Homo sapiens: one gene and its partner. The protein of the gene in region 2 purifies or fractionates together with the protein of the main gene of each other region. This does not show direct contact. Each region holds a gene or a part of one and is shown on either strand. Other genes may lie near its edges.

Region 1 (3,750 bases), on a different chromosome or scaffold from region 2:
CACAAGCCACAAATGTCATCCTAAATTAGGAAGGAATTCTTCACTGCACCTCAATAACTCTTCATAGTGTTATAAGGGTTCCAGGGGCTCTGGATAACTAAAAGTTTCTTAAGACTTATGTCAGAGCTTGGGACTAGAATCAGGATTTCTAACTGGGAGTAAGGCACTTCAGGAGGGATAAACACTTTCTGCACACTCCATAGACAGGCAATTCAAGGCTCTTTTCAGAATTCTTTTCTCTTCCCTCTCCAGTTTCCAAGCTTCGGATATGGCTTTTTGGTGGCTTGGTATTACTAGTACTAGCTCTAAACCTGGAATGTGTATGTGTTTCTTTTCCCACAGTGGAATCATACTAGTTATAGGAAAAAATGAAAAAGAAACACATGACAGGTGGAATAAGTCAGCACATAGAAATTCTGTAACTAAAGAGGAAGGGAAAGTTTTAGTTTGGCATTATATTTTATGTGAATAATATAACTTGTCTCTTTACCAGATGACTAAATAAAAAGTTAAATTCACTAGGCGACTAAAGCTGATTAGCTTTTTACTATTGCCATCTACTGTCACCTGGTAAATCTTTTAATAAGGCTAAGACGGTGTAATTCTAAGATTGGTCCACTAGATGGCAACACCAGATCAACAAATCAACTCTCCAGCAAAACAAAAACTTAAAAATACCTCACAAATCCGTCTATTTATAAACAAATATTAAATTATAATTGGGTCCAAAAGTCCTTAGTTTTTATACTGGAATCAAATTGCTCCTGTAATAATCACTATTAAATAGGGCAAAAATGAGGGAAGGACACTGGGGCAGCAAAACAATTTGCAGCTTTGTGGTCATCACCATACTATTCAACAACCCTTAATATTACATATTACACATCTATTAGGTTCTTGAAATAGGAGGACCATTGAAAACTCTTCACTTCAAAATGTACCTGACAATATTACAAGGGTATTTCAGCCAGATCCACATTGAGAACATCAATCTTACCAGTTGTAGTCTCCTATAATACTGATTGTGTTGGATGCATCGGCAGCCCATGTAATGGGTCTCTGGTTGAGAACTTGGCGTAGCGTGAAGTGATGCTCGCCAGGGTCTTCAATATTTGTAAAATATTCAAATACACCAGTTTGATCAGCAAAGTTTGGAGCTTCACTAAAAAATGGGTAATCTGTTCAGAATGTAAGAAATTCTCTGTTTAGTATCAAATCCTTCAGAAGCTCTCCTTGCTGATATTTTATAGTATGTCTGAAACACTTCTGAAAGCTTTTAAATAAATAAATAAAATCTAAACCAAAGTTTAGGGCCTAGGTCTAATAAAGATACATTAATTTTTGTATCATCATTACTAAATATCAAGATGATGAGTTCGACATATAGATGCTGCATAATATTTAATCCAGGCATCTGGTGTAGAGGAAAGGTCATGAGTTTTGAAGTAAGACCTAGATTCAAATTCGAGTTCAGTCTGTCGCCCTGGACAAGCTATTTAACTGCCCTGCATCTAAAGTTTCTTCATTTCCAGGTTTGCAGGAGGACAAGAGAATTAAAGAAAAGATAACAGGTACATAAGCCAGCACCTGGCAAGGGCTCAATAAGGGATAGCTTTATTATTTCTAATATCTGTCAAGCAAGGTTCCAAATCATGCGTCACAATCATCTGCCAAAAGAGCATAAGAAAGGTTTACTATATCAAGCATAAAATTTACAAATTTTCTTCTACTTCTAAACTGCAGCAAAAACCAGTTTTGGGCCTAAGTTATCAATCCCTTTTTAGTTTTACTAAATTAAATTATAGTCTTACAATAATGAATGCTGTAGAGGAGAAATTTTACATATCTTATAGCTCTTATACCTCATGCTTTTCCAAGTGTTTTTGCATTCATTACCTCATTTGAGACATTTAGAACCCTAACAAGTATCTCCAGAGCCTAGCTTATAATATTTAACTTAGTTTTAAATTTATATTGTAGCTCATAAAGTATTACATTTTATATTTGAAGGTTTGAAATTGCCTCTTAGTCTTCAGGGTCACAAAATATTGGTCTTGGTGCTGGCAGTTCTTCAATCTCATTATCTAGGCCATATCCCACACAGATTCCTCACTTACTGAAGGCAAAAGTCACTTTTGCTAACAGAGAACCAAGCGAGCAACAGATTTTAAAGACCCTGTGTTTCACAAAATTAATGGGTTTATCTAAGAGGCCATTTCAAAGAGTTGCAGAAAAACAAACCACCAAGCTCCCCCTGAGGATCACTGTTGTCTGTATTATAGTTGAGAGGACTCCATTACACAGTCCAAAAGGCCTTATACTCCAGCCAACTAGATCATTTCCTGAGAAAGGGAGGCGAGACCCTGTAGCAGTGACTGGGAAAGGGTGATAGGAGTGTCCATCTTTGGTGGAACAAGCAGCTCTGCAGCAAACAGGAGCTTCAAGTGATGCTCCAGCAATGCCAGCTCCCTCCCTATTACTCTCCTGCTGCTACAGATTTTAGGAGCAGATTACAAAGCCACCTGACCCTGTCTGTGAGACCCATAAACCTACAGAACACCACCAAGCAGTCAACAAATTTTGTTACTTACTCACTAGGAATATAACTACAATGACCATGTCTTCTAACTTTTTTCCAAGTGGTTTTCCTAAATCACCTATAACCAAAAACTTTTCTAACAACTTTAGGACAGATCTTCCTAGAAAACCAAGAAAGCTCAATTAAAAAAAAAGCACGGGATGGTATATAATGAGTTGGATCAGCCAAGGACAACATAACTGCCCATAAGCACTCAGTTCACTAGCACTGCAGAAAGACAGATATGAATGTGTCTTAACCTCCACACAGAAGGAAGATGTCAGTAATGGCTAATGGGGCAGTAGCAAAGTTACAAAGTTTAAGTTTCACCAAAAACAAATCAGAACTATAACTTTCATTCTAACAATGAACCCTATATTTTTTTCTGAAACTGAAAAATACAGGGTCCTCAAATTTAGATTTACCATAAAGTAATGCAAAAAATTAGCCCTCCTTTTACCGCATATGAGATGTAGGAGGTAAATGAATGTGCTTTTGACAGCCACTCCATCATGCACCCAGTTTGACAGGTAGAAATCAACACACTACTGTTAAATATAGAGACCAAGTTAAGTTTTAGTGAAAAATACTCACCAACATTGAAATCATCCTTATAGGTACTTGGGAAGGGCTGGGATTTTGGAGGAAGCGGGTAGCTGCCTTTGCGACCAGTGGTGAGAGTGGTGAGTGTGAACAGCTCATCTTCATGCAGGCTCAGTGTGAAACTGCCATCGCTGTCAAGGAGCTGAAAAAGAAGACACTACTGTATTCAGGACCAGGTACTATAGCTCATCTCATGTGGACAGAATAGCTTTAAAAAAATTAGCTTAAAGAAAAGTCCAAATCATTTCTGTTAGAACTTCCTAAACATTTGTGGAAAACTCACCAATATCAAGGCCCTTGGAATCTTTTTTTCCTAAGTATTTTAGAAAACTTTATAAAATTATGCTTTATAATTTTAAACAACCTTACTTCATGGAAGGAAGGACTAAATAATCTCAAAATCTATTTCTATTAGCCTATTCTTTTCCACTACACAGTAAGCTCCTTAAAGCTTGGATATATTCGATACATGCAACTAAGAGACCTGCTTTTTTCTCTCAGTAATTTACTAAGGTAAAAAAATTCATAAAATATCACTGTCGACCCAGCTGTTAATCACAGAAATCCTT
Region 2 (3,750 bases):
AAATAAATATCCTTGTGTACGGTCCCATCTGGTCCTACCGCAGCTGTCTGCAGTGGGATCCCTGTTCAGCGCCCTGCACGCCACACACATGCCCATCCTACCTGTTCATATTCCATACATATGCATGCATATGTACATAGGTGCTCGCACGCATGCACATGTGCTCATGTGTGCATAAACATATATGCACACGTGTTCATGCCCCAGTGTGCCTTGGTGCTTCTTCTTAACTCCTTCAAGAGCAGAGCCAGTGCGTTCACGCACGTGCACATACACAGTGCTGTGCATTCAGGGTTCAGGCCCAATTAGGCCAGTGGGAATCCTCTCCCACATAGACTTTCTGTATGTCCCACAGCCCTGAGCTAGGACACCCTGCTGTCTAATCCCACAGTTCCTGTACTTCCTTCTTACTTTATTGGTATTCCCTATAGATCATTTTCCTGCTGGCCTAGAAGCTCTGCTAATCCTTAACTTGCTCACTGCTGTTTCTCCAGTGCCTAACTCGCTACTTAGGAGGTAGTGAGATGCACAAGAAATATTTGTTGGGTGAAAAAAAGAAGGAACAGACTTAAAGCTGATAAAGGATGTTGTTCCAAATATTTTTAGAGTCTCTTTTAACAAAGTGGCCAATTTCAGATAAACTCATGGTTTCACAAGAAAATATCTTCGCAGCATCAGATTTCAAGCAGCCTGGTCAGTCATCCTTTCGGAGAGACTGGAAAAAATGCAGAATTGAAAACAGGTCCTTGCCCAGCTAAACATCTTGTAAATTTTACTGTTTTGCAAAAGTTCCTGTCACAGGAATAATGTATGGGGGAGAGGTTTAGCAAGGGGCATTGCTTGCTCCTCCTCCTCAGTCCTTGAGAATGTTCTAAACTAAAGCCTTGAGTGACTGCTTCTCTGGCTCGCTCTCAACCAACAAATGCTGTGGAATCCCAGGACCGCTGGCTGCTCCCTTTAGCGCAGGGTCTCTGGGCTGCTTTGTGGAAAGAAGGTTTATTTTGTCCAGCTGGGCACAGGAGCGGAGAGGAAGAATGTGCAGGCCTGTGTCCCTTTTAACAAAGGGAGAACTCGATGTGGTTTCAGAGAAGCTTGTCTTGCTGGGTGACTTCATGTGGCCTGCATTCATTTCATCCAACATTGACTCTGCAAACTTTTTTTTTTCGAGACAGAGTCTTGCTCTGTCACCCAGGCTGGAGTGCAGTGGCACAATCTCGGCTCACTGCAACCTCCATCTCCCAGGTTCAAGCAATTCTCCTGCCTCAGCCTCCCAAATAGTTGGGATTACTGGCACGTGCCACAGCACCCAGCCTTTTTTTTTTTTTTTTTTGTATTTTTAGTAGAGACGGGGTTTTACCATGTTGGCCAGGATGGTCTTGATCTCTTGACCTCGTGATCCATCCACCTCGGCCTCCCCAAGTGCTGGGATTACAGGCATGAACTCTGCAAACATTTTTTGAGTCCCTGCTGTGTGCCAGGCTTAGAGATGATGACAATGTGGTCATGGGAAGAGAGAGACTCACCACGGTGGTTGCTGGAGGATTTGGGGAGCACATGAAAGGGGCATCTGAGCTATGGGTGACCAGAGAAATGTTCTGGAGGGTGGTTGGGGGTGGGTAGTGCAAAGAAAGGCAGGCTGAGACATGCAGTAGGAGAGGCAGGAGCCAGGCTAAGGCCACCATGAGCAGCATCATTCTAAGAAGCTGGATTTTCTCCTGCAGGAAGTAGGGAGCCATTGAGGGTGGGGAACAGATGACAGTAGGCTGTTTGGCCTGGTCATACCATTGGCTGAGGCCCTGTCCCCCAGGTGAGTCTGTTACAACCATCGATTGTGGACCATTCATCCCATCGCTCACTCTCCCAGCAGCCTCCAGCAAGAGCTACGATTTTACTGCACTTCATTAAATTCCACACAATGTTTTAATGACCTGAGCTCCGACCTTTCTGGCCTCCAGCAGGGAAAGGTCTGGCTTTTCCTTTTCAGGGAGTAGCGGGCTGGGCAGACCGGCCTCCCTTCTCGCAGCCTCGCACAAGGAGCCTGAGCACGTAAGACATCTGGAATGCATCAAAGGCGAGGCCCAGCCAGAGCCGGCGTGCTCGGTGCTGCTGCCTAACTCCTTCAAGAGCAGAGCCGCCACATTCACAAAGCGTCTGGAATCGGAACTGATCGTCCTCTCTGCTCTTTCTGCTTTCCTTCCAGGCCCTTCCACCGCAGCCATCCGCACGGGAGGCCTCGCGATTGCTCGGAACCATCCCGCAGGAGTTCAGCTGATATTTTCTAGTGTGGGGCGAGAGATTTTGTGGAGCGCATTTAAGGGGTTTTTGTTGTGACTGCTGCCTTGTATACATTTATTTTCTTTCTTGGAACTGGGCCTCGCCCTCCTCCCACTGACATGATGGCCCAGTCCAAGGCCAATGGCTCGCACTATGCGCTGACCGCCATCGGCCTGGGGATGCTGGTCCTTGGGGTGATCATGGCCATGTGGAACCTGGTACCCGGCTTCAGCGCGGCCGAGAAGCCAACAGCTCAGGGCAGCAACAAGACCGAGGTGGGTGGCGGCATCCTCAAGAGCAAGACCTTCTCTGTGGCCTACGTGCTGGTCGGGGCCGGGGTGATGCTGCTGCTGCTTTCTATCTGCCTGAGTATCAGGGATAAGAGGAAGCAGCGGCAGGGCGAGGACCTGGCCCATGTCCAGCACCCGACAGGCGCTGGGCCTCACGCCCAGGAGGAAGACAGGTGAGGCCTGACTGTCCCCTTCCCTCCCCGGATCGGGGATGGGCACGCACGCATGCACACACATGTTCACACCTTTCCGTGGTGAAAAGACTGTCATCTACAGGCTTTATTGTCCCATGTTCGCCCATGACGCCTCTGTCAAAACGGTTTATCATTTTACAAATAACTTTAGACTTTTCTACCAGAGCTTCCCAAATAGCATGGTACAAATGGATTACAGGTAAACCAAGATTTTTTAAAAATTTTATTACAATAGATTTTTACACCATGGAATACTATTCAGCCATAAAAAGGAACAAAATACTGTCTTTTGGGCCAGGTGCAGTGGCTCACTCCTGTAATTCCAGAACTTTGGGAGGCCGAGGCAGGTGGATCACTTGAGGTCAGGAGTTTGAGACCAGCCTGGCCAACATGGTGAAACCCTGTCTCTACTAAGAATACAAAAATTAGCTGGGCATGGTGGCACATGCCTGTAGTCCCAGCTACTGGGGAGGCTGAGGCATGAGAATCGCTTGAACCCAGGGGAGTGGAGATTGCAGTGAGTGAGCTGAGATACCGCCACTGCACTCCAGCCTGGGTGACAGAGTGAGACTCTGTCTCAAAAAAAAAAATACAAAAACAAAAAACTGTCTTTTGCAGCAACTTGGATGGAGCTGGAGGCCATTACTCTTAAGTGAACCAGCATTTTGACCCGCCCAGGGTCACTGAACAGGGCCTGGGGTGGCCAGCATATTTGCTTGTCCCTTCACCCCAGCATGCTGTGTGTATGCTTTAATTTGAAATGGCTGGGAAGCAATTTTCCATTTGAGCAAAAATGCCACCAACAAATTTAAAAGATAAGTGATACATTGGGGAAGATATGATAATAGTTGATATCCCTATTATAAAAAGAGCTCTTAGAAATGAATATGTAAGATGAATATACCAATAGGAAACAGACAAAGATTATGAATATTCCATAGATGTTCAACCAATAGATGTTCAACTTCATTAGTCATGAAATGCAAGCAAAA

What was found.
Region 1: the proteins of TMEM51 (region 2) and GALC purify together in Homo sapiens (affinity purification with mass spectrometry; 3 studies listed by BioGRID and IntAct, with this or other methods). This does not show direct contact.

What each region holds. Positions count from the first base shown.
Region 1 is NC_000014.9:87,944,556-87,948,305, forward strand, and holds part of GALC (galactocerebrosidase isoform a precursor), read right to left. Parts: intron 3,324-3,750; coding exon 3,173-3,323; intron 1,179-3,172; coding exon 998-1,178; intron 1-997. UniProt on the Homo sapiens protein: Hydrolyzes the galactose ester bonds of glycolipids such as galactosylceramide and galactosylsphingosine.
Region 2 is NC_000001.11:15,212,695-15,216,444, forward strand, and holds part of TMEM51 (transmembrane protein 51), read left to right. Parts: intron 1-2,200; 5' UTR 2,201-2,393; coding exon 2,394-2,737; intron 2,738-3,750.